5 separate regions of the Homo sapiens genome follow, and regions 2, 3, 4 and 5 are each reported to be linked to region 1. The links are microRNA targets in miRTarBase. Many come from high-throughput screens and were not tested one by one. Region 1 holds a microRNA gene; each other region holds the end of a gene's coding sequence.
Evidence for each region. Region 1 holds the annotated microRNA hsa-miR-3154 (CAGAAGGGGAGUUGGGAGCAGA, at 1,607-1,628, shown strand). A microRNA usually pairs through its seed, bases 2 to 8, with sites in the 3' UTR of a target mRNA and lowers its output. Matches are read on the target gene's strand: a 7mer-m8 pairs with bases 2 to 8, a 7mer-A1 pairs with bases 2 to 7 and ends in A, and an 8mer does both.

Region 2: the mRNA of ZNF467 is a reported target of hsa-miR-3154. Seed matches in the 3' UTR shown: 7mer-m8 at 2,340-2,346.
Region 3: miRTarBase lists RPAP1 as a target of hsa-miR-3154. Seed matches in the 3' UTR shown: 7mer-m8 at 2,591-2,597.
Region 4: miRTarBase lists CRCP as a target of hsa-miR-3154. The part of its 3' UTR that is shown has no 7-base or 8-base seed match.
Region 5: the mRNA of TRMT9B is a reported target of hsa-miR-3154. The part of its 3' UTR that is shown has no 7-base or 8-base seed match.

Annotation. Positions count from the first base shown.
Region 1 is chr9:128,243,019-128,246,583 of GRCh38, reverse strand. MIR3154 (microRNA 3154) reads left to right here and starts at 1,554; the gene lies at 1,554-1,637. It overlaps DNM1 (dynamin 1), which reads right to left. Exons shown (of 22, transcript NM_004408.4): 16 at 81-190. It overlaps MIR199B (microRNA 199b), which reads left to right and starts at 1,754; the gene lies at 1,754-1,863.
Region 2 is chr7:149,761,920-149,765,484 of GRCh38, forward strand. It overlaps ZNF467 (zinc finger protein 467), which reads right to left. Exons shown (of 5, transcript NM_207336.3): 5 at 2,263-3,565. The coding sequence ends at 2,795. Among named protein-coding and RNA genes, the nearest start is that of ZNF467, 9.9 kb to the right of the region's middle.
Region 3 is chr15:41,514,672-41,518,236 of GRCh38, forward strand. It overlaps RPAP1 (RNA polymerase II associated protein 1), which reads right to left. Exons shown (of 25, transcript NM_015540.4): 23 at 3,335-3,511; 24 at 3,127-3,186; 25 at 2,505-3,020. The coding sequence ends at 2,871. Among named protein-coding and RNA genes, the nearest start is that of LTK, 2.6 kb to the left of the region's middle.
Region 4 is chr7:66,151,455-66,155,019 of GRCh38, forward strand. It overlaps CRCP (CGRP receptor component), which reads left to right. Exons shown (of 6, transcript NM_014478.5): 6 at 754-3,114. The coding sequence ends at 903. Among named protein-coding and RNA genes, the nearest start is that of CRCP, 38 kb to the left of the region's middle.
Region 5 is chr8:13,021,042-13,024,525 of GRCh38, reverse strand. TRMT9B (tRNA methyltransferase 9B (putative)) reads right to left here. Exons shown (of 5, transcript NM_020844.3): 5 at 1-3,484. The coding sequence ends at 2,482. The region is part of intron 3 of LOC124901889 (a long non-coding RNA gene); the gene reads left to right. Among named protein-coding and RNA genes, the nearest start is that of TRMT9B, 77 kb to the right of the region's middle.

The DNA.
Region 1 (3,565 bases):
CCTGGATCCCTGTACCCAGCTTCTACTCAGTGAGGGTGGTTTTGGGGCTGCAGCAGCCACAGCCAGGGGCAGGCAGGCACCTCTGCTCCGTGTTAAAGAGGGCAAAGATATGCTTGCTCGACATAAAGCCCTTCTCCACGTCCCGCAGCTTGAGGTTGTCCACAGACAGCATGTATTTCTTCTCTTTCTCCTGTGGGTGCAGGTAGGAGCAATGGGGTGAGGTTGGCACTGTTCTCTGCCACACCTCACTCTCTAAGAGTCCCCCTGACTGGCCCAGGGCTTCTAAGCATCAGCCCCCTCCCACTGCGAAGGTGCAGCTAGATAAAAGCCTGGCCACGGACCGTAGGCCTCCTGGGCACCGCCGACCCCCGCAGAGCCAGTCCTACCAGCTCTGCATATATGCCGGGGGCCAGGGGGCTGGTGAGGGGTGGGGAGGCTGAGAGTGGCTCCCAAAATCCCTCCCCAGGCAAGTCCTGGATACAAGCCAGGCCAGCCTCAGGCAGGGACCGCACACTCAGGCCTCTCTCACCCCCGGCCTGGCCGCCTCTGACTTCATTTCCTGACTGCAGAGACCAGGAAGGGGGGCCACCAGACCCGGCGGCTTCAAAGGGCCGGCTCAGCCCACTCCCCCGAGCTCCCCATGTGTTAGCAATAAGGCAGCCAGCACAAGCCTGGAGATGGTGTGCCTGTGTGTGCAACATGTGTGTAGTTGTGTGTTTGTGCCAACACATGCAAGCCCAAGTACATATCCTATCAGCTATTGTGTGTGTGTGCACATGTGTATCTGGGGAGGTGCCCAGCATGAACCATGTGTCGGTGTCAGCGTGTCTGCATCTCAGTGTGGATGTGTGCACACTTTGTGGATGTGTGTGGCAATTGTGCGAGCCTACATGTTTGCAGAGCCATGCCTGTGGACTTATACTGGGGTACACATCTTACCTGCACACCGTGGTACAATGGGCTGTGTGTTTGATTTATCTAGAGCTGTCTGGGAGGAGTTATGTGTATCTGTGCACAGGCGTGTGGGGTGCTAGGCCCATGTGTGTGCTCGGTGTGGGCACATGTGTATGTAGGCTGCTGTGTCCCAGGGGAGGGGTTCAGGGATCTAGGGAGGAGGTACCCCAGGATGGGGCTCTGGGAGAGGGGAGGGGTTTTTGTCACCCATGCCCTACTTGTTCACGGGGGTCGTCTGTGTGGGCCTCGGGGACTCAAAGAGGTTGGGCATGAGCCTTGCCTAGGATCTCAGGTGGGGGGCTGGGTTTAGGGGGACCTTGCTCCCCCGTCCTGGCGTCATCCCGCCCACCCCTCTCTGCCCCCAACGCCCCCCTGGCCCATGCAGCCACATAAAGCCCTCTTTATGCCAGGCGGGTGGCCGGGAGCCCCAGAGGGCGGCTGGGGGAGGAGAGGAGGAAGTTGCACACACGGCCAGGGAACATCTGGAACCGTTCGAGAGAGGCCCCGCCACCACCCGCCCTGTGCTTCGGGGTTGGACACTAGGTAGGAGCGGCCTCCTCCCCCCACCCCTCCCTTCCTGCCGGCCGGCCCCCTCCTCAGGCCCCTCCTTCTCAGCCCCAGCTCCCGCTCACCCCTGCCACGTCAAAGGAGGCAGAAGGGGAGTTGGGAGCAGAGAGGGGACCACGGGCTGGCTGGTCTGGGGCTAGGGGGACACAGGCTGGGGTTGGGGGGTTCTCGGATCTCCAGGGGATGGGGCTGAAGCGCCCACCGGATGGACAGACACTGCTGCCTGGATGGACCAGAGGACACCTCCACTCCGTCTACCCAGTGTTTAGACTATCTGTTCAGGACTCCCAAATTGTACAGTAGTCTGCACATTGGTTAGGCTGGGCTGGGTTAGACCCTCGGCACCGCCGCCACTGGAGAGCTGGACCGACCCCTGCCTGCCATCCCAGAACCGGAGCCTGGAGCCAGGGGGTTGGGGCACAGGGCGGGCTGGGAGGAGGCACAGATGGATGGGGGTGCCACCCTGTGTGGGACTGGTTGGGGGTAGCGGTGATGGGGGAAGGGTGGCCGAGGAAGACTGAGAGGATGGGGGGGTCAATGGGGACTGGGGATGTGGGCAGCCGCCGGTCTGCCCAAAGAGCCTCCCTCACCCCAAAACCTGAGGGCTGGTGGTTGAGTAGAGAAGTACAGACCACTCTCCCACCAGCCTGGACCACCTCCACATCCCCAGTGGTCCTAGTGCAAGAATCCACTCACATTCAACACACACGCACCTTGACACTCACAGCCCCAGAACTCACACACATGAGCACCCCCACACTTTCAATCTCACACCCATGTCCCACACGGACACACACAAGTGCATGCACACACACCCATACACACCCTCACAACTGGAACACTCCCCCCATCCTCACATCCCAAAGACATACACAGATTCTCAAACACCCCATACTCACACCCTCCCTCCTAGAGCCCCCTCCCCACACACACCTGCTTTTACACCCCAAGCACAGGCAGGTGCCCAGAGTCACTCCCCAGGCACACAGATTTCACCCCCAGATGCAAATGCAGACCACATATTCCAAACACACCTAGATGCTTATACTCCAATCACACTCCTAAAAAACACCCACACACCAGACCCACAAGCCACACACACACACACACACACACACACAAACACACCCCGCCTCCCAGCACCCACAGCCCACAGCTGACTCCCATCTCCCCACATATGATTCTCAGAGCTGTTTTCGCACACGACTTAACTCAGATGTACACAAAAGCTCCAGAAAGGCCTGCAGGCTCAGGCATGAGATCAGGGGACCCCCTCAGTGGCACGTGCCCCTCCCCCACAGTGTCACCCGGTCTCCGGCCCTCAGCCCCAGGTCACATGGTCTCCCTGGCCCTGAGTAAGGAACCTCAACATGGGAGACCCCAAACCCATGGGGGCATCTAGGGAGCCTGCAGAGAGACCGGCAGGAAGCCACCCCCCACCCGCACCCCATGCCACTGCACACTCCATCCCTTCCAGGGGCCCCCATGGTGGGGGAGGCCAGGGTTGGGGTAATGAGGTCCAGATGGCTTGGCGCCCCCGCCAGTGACGACAGAGGGCCCCTCCCAAGGTGGAGAGTTGGGGCCCCTGCCCAGGACAAACTTGGAGGAGACAGGGACCTGGGAGGGGGCTTGGAGGCCAAAATCACAGGCCCCACCCAGAGCCCCGCTCCCCCGTTGAGGATGCTGTAGCCTCCAACAGCCCCCTCAGGAAGAAGAGGGTCCCTTCCCCCACTCCTTGGCCAGCTGGAGTTCATTACCACAAGCCCACCCCCAGCCCTCCCCATTCTCTCTGGTCACCTCTGGAATCCAGATGTGAAAGCCAAATAGACTCATTCTTAAAGGAGACCAGCAACAGGGGAAGGAGGTGGCAGGGGCTTCTGTGCACCCTAGTGGGCGGGGAGGGGTTTTTTGTGGCACCTCGGCAGGGCCCCCACACTCCTTGCCCCTCAGCCTGAGGGCACCCTGGTCATTTCCCTTGGACTGCAGGGGTCTAGGGGACTGGGGTGCAGGGGTTAACCGGGTGTCTGGCAGCTAGACTTGTGTG
Region 2 (3,565 bases), not on the chromosome of region 1:
ATAGAACTAGGAAATGAGTGCTTTACTTCTCTGAGCATTTTCACACACCAGGATGTGGTTCTAAAGTCAACAATTTGGTGCCTTATCAAGGTAGTTGTACCTGGGGTGGCTCAGACCTGGGGTGACATAGGGGTGGTGATGGTAGGTATTGATTTTAGTGAGGCCACCACTTTCTGAGTCTAGAACTCTTCCTTGGGAAGAGCCTTCAGAAACCTCAGTCTTCCATCACACGGTGCATTTGTTGAGCAGACGTCTTCTGAGTTGGCTATTGCCAGACTGGATGCTAAACAAATTTTGACTATTTGCAAACAAGCTAAAAAATAAGGACAAAGATATGCATGCCTTGTAGAGAATCTTTAAAATAATGTGAAATCCTGAAAACGTCTGGCACATGGTAGGCCTCACCAAATATGCTGTAAGATCTAAAAGCTGTTCTTACACGAGAATTCCAGAATGTTTCAAGAAAGGAAAACATTGGTCTAACCAACACAAACATTGTTTTTATGTGTTTGATTTTAAAAGTCTGTGAAATGACTTTTTTTTTAGCTGGAATCACAAGCTCTGTGCCTAAGAGGCTGGGTAGGGAACCTTGGAGAAGCCCAGTTGGGCTTTAAGACGAGGGGGAGTGCTGAGGACTCCGATCCCTTAGTCCAAAGAGGACAACTTCCACTCAGCTCCAGCCACCAGTTGCCAAACCTTTTGCTTTTTTCACAACAGAAGATGGAAGTCCAGATTTTTATGTGACATTTCAAGATATTTAAAATAACCTGGAGTCACCAACTCATTCTTGGCCACGAAACTTATAAACACGCCTGCATTCATGCATCCTCTGACAGGCCTCCCAGCCAACGCCCCTCCCTCACCTGTGTCCAGGTCTCATTGTCTCCTACCTTCTCTGGGATTTTGCTTTTGTAGTTCACCATTGTGATCTGAATTCTGACCCAGCTGCTCCTGATGCTGCTGTCACCGAGACTGGATTTGCTTGCAGCGACATCCAAAGGGTTTGGAAGCCCTTCGCCTAGGTGACCTCTCTCTAGCCTCCAGCGGCCTCCTCCTCCCTGAAGCGCGTCTTTCCTCGGCTCCTCTATCACCTCTACCTGGGGCTTTCCTGTCCAGTCCTTGCACCTGCACTCTCCAATCTTGTTTACAGGCCTCTCTCGGTGCCATCCCCTAATGTTGGTGTCCCAGAGGCTTCTGTCCCAGGCCCCCAATTTCTCACTCCACACTCAGTTCTTTGGGAAGATCATCCGCTCCCCCATAGCTTCAGAAGCACATGCGGATAGTTCTCAGCTGTATGTCTGCAGCCTGGCCCTCTCCTGAGCTCTCCACCCACACAGCCTCCTTCCTGCTGGGCACACACTGCTCACAACTCAGGAGACCCAGGACTACTCCCCCAGCACAAAGCTGCCCCCAACACCGAGTCTCCCTTCTGGGAGTATGCCACTGTCATCCAGTCAGTGTCAAACAGAAATCGGGCTGAGCTCATTGATTCCCCGACCCACACTAGTCAACAGGTCCTGTATCCTCTGCCTATTAAGTGTCTCTTGAATCCATCACTTCTCTGTCTCCTCTGACACAACTATGGTCCCAGGTCACCACAACCTGTCACCAGGACAACTGATGCGCAGGCCTCCAATTTCGCTCCCGAGTTGTCTAGCCAAACATCTTTCCAAACTTCAGGAATGTGAGCGTGGCCCTGTTCCTGCCCCGCCTAACCTTGCCATGGTTCCCCCTCCCTTGGACACGGTCTAAACTGCTTCACAGGTGTGAAAGACCCCTTCATCTCTCAGGCCACTGCTCTGGCCTCTCATCCCCGCTCACTGGGAAATGAATAATGCTGCGCTCCAAGTCCCACGAGAGGCAGAGGGGGGTCAAACCCAAGACTACTCACTGCAAGCTCCATAGGCTCCCCATCGTCCTACCCTCCCCGTTCACGGCCAGGCAGCCCTAGCTCTCATACCTGCGTGGGCTGGAGAAGGGCAATACAGAGACTTCTGGACCCAGCAGCCTTAAGAAAGGACTTGTTGCAAGTGCGATGTGAAAGCAACCTTCATCTGCAGTGGATGTGCCACCTCCTTCCTCACGCCACCGAGCTCCGAATCCCCCAGGAGAGTTGCGGAGACCACACAGAGCTCCCAAGCCCACGCCAAAGGACGGCCTGCCCCCCTTCAGCTCTAGTCGGTGACACGTGGCGTGAGAGAAATGCACCCCAATCTTCCTTCCTTATACTTCCGAGCTAGAAGCAGGAGCCAGGATGGTGGCTTAGTGAATAAATATATTACATTTTTATTTGGGAGAACCAATTAACAGCAGCTGGCTAAATGTAACTCACCCAGGACAGAAGGGGAAGTGGAGGGGGGTGGTCTGTGTGTGGATGGAGGTGGGACAGTGGCTAAGGAGAGTCAGGTGTTCCCTCCCCCAATTCATTTAGCAGCCCCAGAACTTTCCGATTTTAACTTTAATGAAACTTTAAGTACATAAATAACCACTCTTTCCTGCCCTGGTTGAGGCCGCGCTGGGTCCGGGAAATATCTGCTTTCCAACGGGGCACCTGGGTGGGAGCCTTCCAAGAACTTCAGCTCAGCGGTTCCCAGCAAGGGTTCGCTGAGTCTCTGTCCTAGGAGGTCCGAGCTGGGTATGCTGTGCGGACGCAGACACTGCGGGAAGGAAACAGGTGTCCCGCGGCGGCCAAACCTTCGGGCAGCAGCCCAGGTCGCCTTGCTCACCCCAGGCGGTCTCATGGCACGGGCCTCTCGAAACTGTGGGCAAGAAAGGGTCCTCGTGAGAACTAGGCTCAGAAGAAGAGCGGGGGCGGCGCCACCTCGGGGGGAGCGGACCAGGCTGGGGCCGCAAGGGCGGCGTCCGGGGCCGCGTGGGCGGCTTCGCCGTGAATGAGCTGGTGCCGCACCAGGTGGGTCTTGCGGCTGAAGCTCTTTCCGCACTGCGGGCAGGAGAAGGGGCGGGAGCCTGTGTGGATCGCCTGGTGGCGGACTAGGTTGGTTTTGGAGCTGAAGCTGCGGGCGCAGACGGCGCAGGCGTGGGGGCGGCTGCCAGTGTGCACCGCCTGGTGGCGGCCCAGGTGCGACTTGCGGCTGAAGCGGCGGCCGCACTGAGCGCAGGCGAAAGGCCTGGCGCCGCTGTGGGCCCTGGAGTGGGCGACCAGATTAGGCCGCGAGCCGAAGCGGCGGTCACACTGCGTGCAGGCGAAGGGCCGTTCGCCCGTGTGCACGCGCGGGTGCCGCGCCAGGTGCTGCCCATGGGAGAAGCCGCGCCCGCAGTCCGGGCAGAAGAAGGACCGCTCGCCCGAGGGGGCGCGCTGGGGCACCACGGGATCGGATCCTGGGCCGCAGCCCGGTCCGCCAGGCGCGCTGGCCAGGGGCTTGGCGGCGGGGGCATCCACGGTGGCGCCCAGTGCGCACTCATCGCACCCAAAGGGGCGACCCTCGCTGCGGTGCAGACACTGGTGCGTGGCGAGGTTCTTTTTCCAGCCGAAGCTCAAGCCGCAGTCGGAGCACGCGAAAGGCTTTGGCCCGGGAAAGGATGGGGTCGGGGACGGGGCAGTGGA
Region 3 (3,565 bases), not on the chromosome of region 1:
TGGTTCATGCCTGTAATCCTAGCACTTTGGGAGGCTGAGGCGGGCAGATCACCTGAGGTCAGGAGTTCGAGACTAGCTAGACCATCATGGCAAAATCCCGTCTCTACTAAAAATACAAAATCAGACACACGTGGTAGCGCACGCCTGTAATCCCAGCTACTCTGGAGGCTGAGGCAGGAGAATGGCTTGAACCTGGGAGGCAGAGGTTGCAGAGACGAGATCGCACCATTGCACTCCAGCCTGGGCAACAAGAGCAAAGCCCCATCTCAAAAAAAAAAAAAAAAAAAAAATCCTAACTTGAAAGTCTGAGACCTATGTTTAATACAAAATACTTCAAAAGAGAAGTTATAGTAGTTAGCTACTTGGTAAAGTCTGAGTATAATTCAAGGTGTAAACAGAACAGTGATTTTGTAAAAAGTCTGGTCTCAGCCAGGCGTGGTGGCTTACACCTGTAATCCCAGCACTTTGGGAGGCCAAGGGGACGGTGGGGGTGGGGTGGATCACAAGGTCAGGAGTTCAAGACCAGCCTGGCTAAGATGGTGAAACCCCGTCTCTACTAAAAATACAAAAATTAGCCGTGCGTGGTGGCAGGTGCCTGTAATCCCAGCTACTTGGGAGGCTGAGGCAGAGAATTGCTTGAACCTGGAAGGCAGAGGTTGCAGTGAGCCGAGATTGCACCACTACACTCCAGCCTGGGTGACAGAGTGAGACTCCATCTCAAAAAAAACAAAAAACAAAAAAACCCTGGTCTCTATGCCCTACTTAACACTAGATATCACACTATGAGATCACAGAATTTACCTTGCAAAGTCTCTTTAAGCCACTGCTCTTCAAATTGTGGTTGTGTGGTTTGTTCTGAACATCAGCATCAGTATTACCTGGGAACTTGTTAGAAATGCAGATTCTTGGGTTTCACCCCAGATGTACTGAATCAGCAGCTTCTGGTGGTAGGACCCAGTGATCTGTTTTAAAATATCCTCCAGATGATTTTTGTCACAAAGTTTGAGAATCATTGGTATTTGCTGATACAGTAGTTGCTTAATAAAACCTATTGGGGCCACATGCTGTGGCTCACACTTATAATCCCAGCACTTTAGGAGGCTGAGGTGGGCGGATTGCCTGAGCTTAGGAGTCTGAGACCACCCTGGGCAACATGGCAAAACACCGCTTCTAATAAAAATACAAAAAACTAGCCCGGTGTGGTGGTGCATGCCTGTAGCCCCTGCTACTCGGGAGGCTGAGGCATGAGAATCACTTGAGCCTCAGAAACGGAGGTTGCAGTGAGCCAAGATCATGCCACTACACTCTGGCTTGGGCTACAGAGTAAGACTCTGTCTCAAAAAAAAAAAAGAAAAAAAGGCTGGGCCCAGTGGCTCATGCCTGTAATACCAGCACTTTTGAAGGCTGAGGCGGGCGGATCATGAGGTCAGGAGTTCGAGTTCAAGACCAGCCTGGCCAACATGGCAAAACCCCATCTCTACTAAAAATACAAAAATTAGCCAGGCGTGGTGGCACGCGCCTGTAATCCCAGCTACTTGGGAGGCTGAGGCAGGAGAATGGCTTGAACTAGGGAGGGGGAGGTTGTGGTGAGCTGAGATTGCCCCACTGCACTCCAGCCTGGGCAACAGAGCAAGACTTCGTGTCAAAAAAAAAAAAAAAAAAACCCAAAAAAACCTATTGGATAATTCTGTGTTCAGCAGCTCCATTTATGAAGACTGGGTTCTCTCTACCTACTGACAGGGCTAGGCCTTGGCACACTGCTCTGACTCTGGTTACTTGCAAACACAATAAGTAATCCACACAGCAAAAGACAGTCTAAGAAAGCCTAAAGTTTAGAATTCAGACCAAAGAACAATGTAGAAACTACCAAAATAGGCCAAGTGTAGCGGCTCATGCCTGTAATCTTAGCACTTTGGGAGTCTGAGGTGGGTGGATTGCTTGAGCTCAGGAATTCAAGACCAACCTGGGCAACATGGTGAAACTCCGTCTCTACAAATACAAAAAATTAGCCAGGCGTGGTGGCACTTGCCTGTGGTCCCAGCCACTCAGGAGGCTGAGGTGGGAGAATGGCTTGAGCCCAGGAGGTCGAGGCTGCAGTGAGCTATGATCACGCCACTGCACTCCAGCCTGGGCAACAGAGCAAGACCCTGTCTCAGAAATAGATAGATAGATAGATAGATAGATAGATAGATAGATAGATAGACAGACCGACCGACCGACAGACAGACAGACATGGGGTCTCACTATGTTGGCTAGGCTGGAATTGAATTCCTGGAATCAAGTGATCATCCTGCCTCAGCCTCCCAAGTAGTTGGGACTACAGGTGTGTACCACTGTGCCTGGCAGGCCCCACATTCTTGTTGTCTCCAGATGTGGACAAAGTTTTTACCTCCCACTTATGATTCTTCCCCATCTCTCTCACAGCAGTCCTGCTCCTCACCTGGGATAACCCACCCCCAGATACTAACCCTGAACTAACATGGCTGAAATCAGTCCAGATCAAATTTCCAGGAGATAAAAAACATTTATTTTAATGCACAACTATAGCATTCATATGCCTCAGCCCAGGGCAGGGGTTGGGAGTTAGGTAAGAAGGGATGCATTTAGTTTGCCCTGTCCCCAAAGAGCGGGTAAATAGCTAAGCCACTCTTCACTCCCAGTACAGACCTTCAGAAGCCCCAGATATCAGGATGTAATGGTAGGGCTCACTGCTCTAAAACAGCTCAAACAACCTGCTCCCAGGAAGGCAAGCCTTCTGCTCCTTGGTCTCCTGCCTACCATTAGGACACAATGTTCTTCGTCTGGCCAGACATCTGTTGAAAGGCTGGATACAGGACAACGTACCCATCTTTCCATCTATATCAACTATCCTAGGTCTCTGATACCCCATTTTGGAGCACTGTTGAAGTCAGTCTCTGGAGGTAGTGCTGACGCAGAGGGGGCAACTGAGAATAGAGCTCAAAGCCCTCTGGGAGCGTGGAATTGGGAAGCTTATAGTGCAGGAGGTGCTGCCGGAGACCCTGCAGAAAGGAAAGAAAACTTATGAAGTGGGTAATGAGATCCTGTTGTGGTCTCTGTCCCCCAAGATCCTCTAATATCCCACCCTCCTAATGGCCCTGACCCTACCTCATCTGCCAGCAGCCATGTTTTCTGCAGCATACTCCTGCGGGCAGCTTTGACCTCATCCTAGAAGCAGAACAGGGAGAGGTGGCACTGAGCCGAGGGCTGGTACCCACCACTGGCCTTGCTTGACACTTACCTCTTCCCCAGCTGGCCCAGAGGCAGCTCAATTGCTAGCTCCCTTCCTTCCTCTGAAGATGGAGATGTAACTTACTGAGCTCTGTGGGTCCTGAGAGAAGATGAAGCTATTGACATGAGCCACAGCCACAGCATAGAGCACGGGGCACCAACGTGGGCGGAGCGCACCAGTAACCAGGGTCCGGAAGTAGAGCTGAAGGAGGGCCAGGTTGTCTTCAGGAGGCACTGTGTAACACTCCAGGGACACAGGCAACTGTGACAGGGGAAATGACGTGCTGAGGGGGAGGGTAGGAATGTATATACATAC
Region 4 (3,565 bases), not on the chromosome of region 1:
GCTATTCGGGAGGCTGAGGCAGGAGAATTGCTTGAACCTGAGAGGCGGAGGTTGCAGTGAGCCGAGATTGTGCCACTGCACTCCAGCCTGGCGACAGAGCAAGACTCTGTCCTGCCCCCCCAAAAAAAAAATTACAGATGTGCTTGTGAAATATAAAAGTACATAAAGTGCCATTTAACTTCTTCGAGATGCATATGCAACCTGTTCACCACTTCTCTCTGTGTGTGTGTGTGTGTGTGTGTGTGTGTGTGTGTGTGTGTGTGGTTATATAACTTAGCTTTTTCCTTTTTTTCTTTTCTTTTTTTTTTTTTTTTTTTAGACAAAGTCTTGCTCTGTCACCCAGGCTGGAGTGCTTGGCTCGACCTCCTGGGCTCAAGTGATCCTCCCACCTCAGCCCCCCAAGTAGCTGGGACTATTGGCACACACCACCATGCTTGGTTGATTTTTTTTGTTTGTTTTTAAGAGATGGGGTTCCTCTGTGCTTCCCAGGCTGGGGGTTTTCCTTTTCTTTAAAGAAAAATGCTATCCTACAACTTGGTTTTTACTGACCCATTTTGATCAGTCGCATTGGCTCAGTCCAGGATGTGACTTGGCTCCACCCTTCCGTCTGTAAGATGGAGAGGACTCACGAGGACCCAGGCTGTGAGGTCTGTGTGCCAGGAGGCCGGGCTGAGACCATGAGCACAGTGGGCAGGGCTGCCCAAGGCTGTAAGTTTCATTTGTAACCCTGGAGGATTTTCTTTCCTTCTGCAGATGGTGGAAGAGAGTGAAGAGCGGCTCACGGAGGAGCAGATTGAAGCTCTTCTCCACACCGTCACCAGCATTCTGCCTGCAGAGCCAGAGGCTGAGCAGAAGAAGAATACAAACAGCAATGTGGCAATGGACGAAGAGGACCCAGCATAGAAGAGCACAGCTGGCCCCGGCGTTTCATGAAGTCAGAAGGCCTGGCAGCCATTTCCTGGACGTTGAGAGGATTGTTTATTTGATTTTTATCCTCATCCCAGCAGGCCTGGCTTTGTGGTTAGTTGGGTACATCACAAAAATAAGTTAAAAAGAAATATTTGTGCCTTGGGGAGAAGAAACATGGTGAAAACAGGCTGAGGTTGTCAGGGCAGAGAGCTGAAGGTGGGGACAGTGACCGCGGACCCCTCTGTGCTTGAAAGATTTCCTCCACGGCCTTTGCCCCAGTTGTGGGGAGGTCTCTGTGCACAGCGGGGAAAATGCTTGTGTCGCCTTTGGTGGGCCATGTCCTAATTAGTTTCATCTGCTTCCCTGGGAACTTACTAAGGGGCCCAGAGCACTGTTGGAAGTCTGGTTAGAGTCCCCAGAGAGTTACTCTAAGTTAAAATGAGCCACTGACCTTGGCTCACCTTAGAGGAATTTCCTCGAGAACAACAGAGATAAGAAAAGAACCGGCCTGGCCAATCCTTCAACAGCTCTAGAGCCCCTTTTCTCTGCTGGCAGGGGCTTTGTTTACCAGCTCACTGTTTAGGCTAAATGTTAGGGACCAGATCACTGCAGTTGAAAACGGGCACTCCAGGCTTAGTGACAGTGGCAGCAGAAACAGTGTTGGCTGCCTTTCTGACCACCCCACTTTCCTGCCCTGAGACAGCAGCCCAGGGCAGGTGCTTCATATTCAGACCAGGTAAGCCTCATTTGCACAACAGTCAAATTGTTTGTTCCTTTAAAAAGGACACAATTAGCCTGGCACGGTGACTCATGCTTGTAATCCCAGCACTTTGGGAGGGCAAGGCAGGCGGATCACCTGAGGTCAGGAGTTTGAGACCAGCCTCACCAACATGGAAAAACCCCATCTCTACTAAAAAAATACAAAATTAACCAGGGGTGATGGCACATTCCTGTAATCCCAGCTACTCGGGAGGCCGAGGCAGGAGAATCGCTTGAACCCGGGAGGCAGAGGTTGAGGTGAGCCAAGATTGCACCATTGCACTCCAGCCTGGGCAACAAGAGCAAAACTTCATCTAAAAAACAGAAAATATTAAGATGATTACCATGTGAAAACCTTTTTAATATTCAGGATTTGGAAAGTATAGTTGCCCCAGGCATGTGGTTGTTGCCTTAGGTCCTGCGAATATTGCTGAAAATCGGATTTTCCACATTCACTTTCTTCCCTGTTTTAGGGAAGAAAATGATCATAGACATTCGATTTTCCAAATTGGCGCTCTTATTTTCAATGCTAATTGGATTACTTCTCTTCCAACCCTCCTGCCCGTCCATCCATCCCAGTCCCCAGGCATCTTAACCTTACCATCTGAGCTTCAGCTGAAATCTGTTTATAGGCAACATTGAAAGTACCAGATTGGGGCCAGGTGTAGCGGCCCACACCTGTAATCCCAGCACTTTGGGAGGCGGAGGCTAGCGGATCATGAGGTCAGGAGTTCAAGACCAGCCTGGCCAACATGGTGAAACCCCCATCTCTACTAAAGATATAAAAAACTAGCCGAGCGTGGTGTTGCATGCCTGTGATCCCAGCTACTCGGGAGGCTGAGGCGGGGGAATCGCTTGAACCGGGGAGGCAGAGGTTGCAGTGAGCCAGATCGTGCATTGCACTCCAGCCTGGCCGACAGGGTGAGACTCCATCTCAAAAAAGAGAAAGTACCAGATTGTACTTTTAAATCTGTCTAGCGTATTGAGAATTTTAGTGGGAGCTGTTGATTTATTTCTCAGGGCATACATGTGCCAATCTGTCTCATTGTTGTCTCTCTCTTTTTTTTTTTTTTTTTTGAGACAGTCTCGCTGTGTTGCCCAGGAGTGCAGTGGCACGATCTCTGCTCACTGCAACCTCTGCCTCCCAGATTCAAGCGATTCTGGTGCCTTAGCCTCCTGAGTAGCTGGGACTTACAGGCACGTACCACTATACCCTGCTAAAATTTGTATTTTTAGTAGAGACAGGGTTTTGCCATATTGGCCAGGCTAGTCGTAATGTCTCTTTTTAACACTGAATATGTTAGGTGGTTTTTCTTGATGGATTTAGGGTTAACCTAGTTAATAATAAATTGTTTCCAGGTAATTATCAAGTTTTGTCATTTTATAAATCTGAAGAGTTAATATTGTCATCGATACAAATAAAGTGAAATCTGACTGAGGCTAAAATGTGTGATTTTTTTCTTAAAAGACTGACTCTATTTAGATCTACTTTTTTTTTTTTTTTTTTTTTTTGAGACGGAGTCTCGCTCTGTCACCCAGGCTGGAGTGCAGTGGCGCCATCTAGGCTCACTGCAAGCTCCGCCTCCTGGGTTCATGCCATTCGCCTTCCTCTGCCTCCCGAGTAGCTGGGCTAATTTTTTGTATTTTTTAGTAGAGACAGGGTTTCACCGTGTTAGCCAGGATGGTCTCAATCTCCTGACCTTGCCCACCTCAGCCTCCCAAAGTGCTGGGATTACAGGCGTGAGCCACCTCGCCCAGCCTAGATCTACATTTTTAATTGGATTTCAAGAAAAGTTTAAGTTTCTATATTTGAGACCTGAATTTAACCTCAGTTTTTTGTTAAACCAGGTTCTGGAAGACTTAACTTTATAAGAAATGAACATATATTCTGTGTAAT
Region 5 (3,484 bases), not on the chromosome of region 1:
GCAAGGCCAGGATTAAAAACCCATGTGACAATAGGCTTCAGAGAGAGGAACAATCCATTCATAATTCAAAGGCCGTCAAGCCCGAGTTGTAAGACCATTTTGACTCTGAGAATCTTTTCTTTTTACCAAGGAAATCCCTTGCAGTCATGGTTTAGTGTCCTGAATTAAGAAATAAAAGGAACAGGCCGGGCGCGGTGGCTCACGCCTGTAATCCCAGCACTGTGGGGGGCCGAGGCGGGTGGATCACGACGTCAGGAGATCGAGACCATCCTGGCTAACACGGTGAAACCCCGTCTCTCCTAAAAATACAAAAAAACAGCCGGGCGTCGTGGTGGGTGCCAGTAGTCCCAGCTACTTGGGAGGCTGAGGCAGGAGGATGGCGTGAACCCGGGAGGCGGAGCTTACAGTGAGCCGAGATCGCGCCAGTGCACTCCAGCCTGGGCGACAGAGCGAGACTCTGTCTCAAAAAAAAAAAAAAAAAAAAGAAATAGAAGAAACCAAATTAATTTTTAATTTATACTCCACTTATATATGTTTTCAATCATCCACTACTGCAGGATGTACACTGAACAGTACAACTCATATGCATCATTTTCACCAGACAACCTCATCTACCAAAATGGTGATAACACAATCTTATTTTGAAGCCAAAAGAGAGTTATAAACATCAATCGTTTTCAGATACGCTTTAAAAATATTTCTTTAAGTTTGTTCAAAAGTAACATCATTATTTTAAGTTATAGCACAATCATTAAAGGAAAAAAGAACCCAAGAACAAATGAAATTCGTTATTATTTTAGTCACTTTTAGTGGAAAAAATAAAACAAGATTTGGATTTTCATCCAGCATAAAGTAAAAAGACTCTTGTCAGATGTCAATTTTCTCATTAATGAACTACTTGAGACTGTACTCCTGGGTCAACTTATTTCTGCTTCTCCTGTCTCTAGACCTGTCTTAATTATATTTGTGTCTCAGGATCCATGACATAGATTTAAAGAGACCCATGGGCAAATCTAAACAGTGACCACACAGTGTCCAGTCTATTCGTTTCTCTACAAAGTGACAGAAATTCAACCTGTAATCAGTAGAAGTTGATTCTACCTAAATTCCTAATATAACTAATAAAATGTAGTCACCTTCAATAAAATAAATGCCCAGATACTATTTTAAAGGATACAGCAAATCCAAGTCATACCTCTACCAAGGCTAACTATGCTGTACCTTAATTTGTTTGTTCTCAGAGCTAAAATCAGTGCTTCACTTAGATTCTCCTTTCCTAAAGAGTCCGTCAACTCAGAAGAAATGCCTAGTTCTTGATGCAGACTCATCATTAGTCAATCTTGGTCTTGGATATTCATCCTTCTAATAAGCATGATTGATAACAATCTTGCTAATAAGCAATAGTAATATCAATCTTGAATATTCATGCTTCTAATAAGATTGGAAGAATACCACTTGGGTACTTGCATATAACTCCTACTACCTACATACTCCACTCCTTACAAGCTAACAACGCCTTTATTATTATTATTATTATTATTTTGAGACAGAGTCTTGCTATGTTGCCCAGGCTGCAGTGCAGTGATGCAATCATAGTTCACTGCAGCCTTGAATTCCTGGGCTCACGTGATCCTCCTGCCTCAGTCTCTTGAGTAGCTTGGATGACAGGCATGCACCACCACATCTTGCTAATTTTTATAGAGATGGGGTCTTGCTATGTTGCCCAGGCTATTCTTGAACTCCTGGGTTCAAGTGATCCTTCTGCCTTGGCCTCCCAAAGTGCTGGGATTACAGGCATGAGCCACCATGCTCAGCCTAACAGTGCCTTTAAAAACCTCCTGGGCTACATTGAAAACCTTATTATCACATGTCAACTTATTTTGAAGCAAGTTTGCTTATAATTTAGTAAAGTCCTTGTAAAACTTCTTGTTTCTCTCCACTGTCACTCAGTTTTCTGAAAACTTTAAGTAGAAGCAAGGCCTTGGCAACAAGATAACTCATCACATGGTTCAAAGTATATCTGTGCAATGGATCAAATTTACCTATTATCTTGCACACTGCTCTCAGTTATAACCTGAGAACCAGAAATTATCCCCTCACTTTATAAAAATACCGTTTTAAAAGATTATTTAACAGCATAATCTTTTTAAATCAATGTGTAATACTGAAAAACACTATACATGTATTTTATCTCTCTGGGGTTAAAAAAAAGTCTGAGGTGTACTGAAGGGTACTTTCTGTTGCTTCTTCAGATCTTGTATATTAACATTTAAGCACAAATACCCTTTGTCAAGTGCTTTCAATGCCAGAATCTGTGCTTATTCAAAAATGAAAACAAAACAACCAAATAATTAATAGTCTCTGCAGACCAAAGCGTAAATGGATTAACAAATAACACTGAATGCAAATTCAGGTAACCATATCAAACCAAGAGGAAAGAATGTGGTTCATCTTTTGGAGGAGTTGTCTAAAAGGATCCAATCAATCACAACCTCTCTTTTTCTCTGCAATGATACACCAGTTACCATGATCATTCCCAGAACTCAGGATACGGAGCTCTGACACATTCTCCTTGAGCAGACTGCAGAGCTCCCCTTCTCGAAACACATGGTAGTAGCGCATAAAGGCTGTGGAGTCCAAAACATCAGTCTGTGGATCTTCGACAGACATTGTATCATCTGGGTTGAAATCTGTGGAATCAACTGCAGAAATCCTTCTCAATATTTTACTAGCAGAAGGATTATCATCTTCTATGTTGCCTGCATCCACACAATTCACACCAGTATTAGTGCTATCCAGAAAATTTCCCCCTCCATTTCTCCTCATTTCCCCTTGATGGTCTCCATTTAAATGTTTCAGAGTGCCTGGTGCTCTCAGCCACTCCAAGTGTTTTCCAGAAGAAGATTCCACAAACACTTCCTCATCTAAACTTTGCCCTTTTGTTGAAAATGGCTCTTGGTGATCAAAGTCTAAACTAGAGTGTCTGGAAGGCTGGACTGTTACAGTGCTACTGGCCCAAACTTCTGTGTTTTTCAAGGGTCTTACTCTTTCAATTTGCTTCCTCAGAGTCGATTCATCCAAAGATCTGGAGAAAAACCAGGAACGAAACGATTTTCCTAATGTGCTGTAAAATCCATATTCTTCCTCGCCTTCCTTAGAAATATTTGCAAAACAGGTTCTTGCCATAGCAGGTTCATAGCCCACGCTGTGGGACCGTTTTGAACCACACTGCTCTTTAAAACAAACAGAACAGCTACACTCAGAGCAAGGAGGATGGTAGGGATGGCCTCTTTCTGGGTATCCACACTGCCTCTTCCTCCCAGACTGGCTGGACTCTGAGAAGAGCTGGGAACACAGAGCCCTGTTCCATGGAACAAGCACGTCTTGCTTCTCAAAGTGACGGTTCTTTTGTTCCATTGCCCAAACGTAAATCATCAGTTGGCCTCCGGGAACTAAGACCCTGGCCATTTCTTTTATTGCTCTG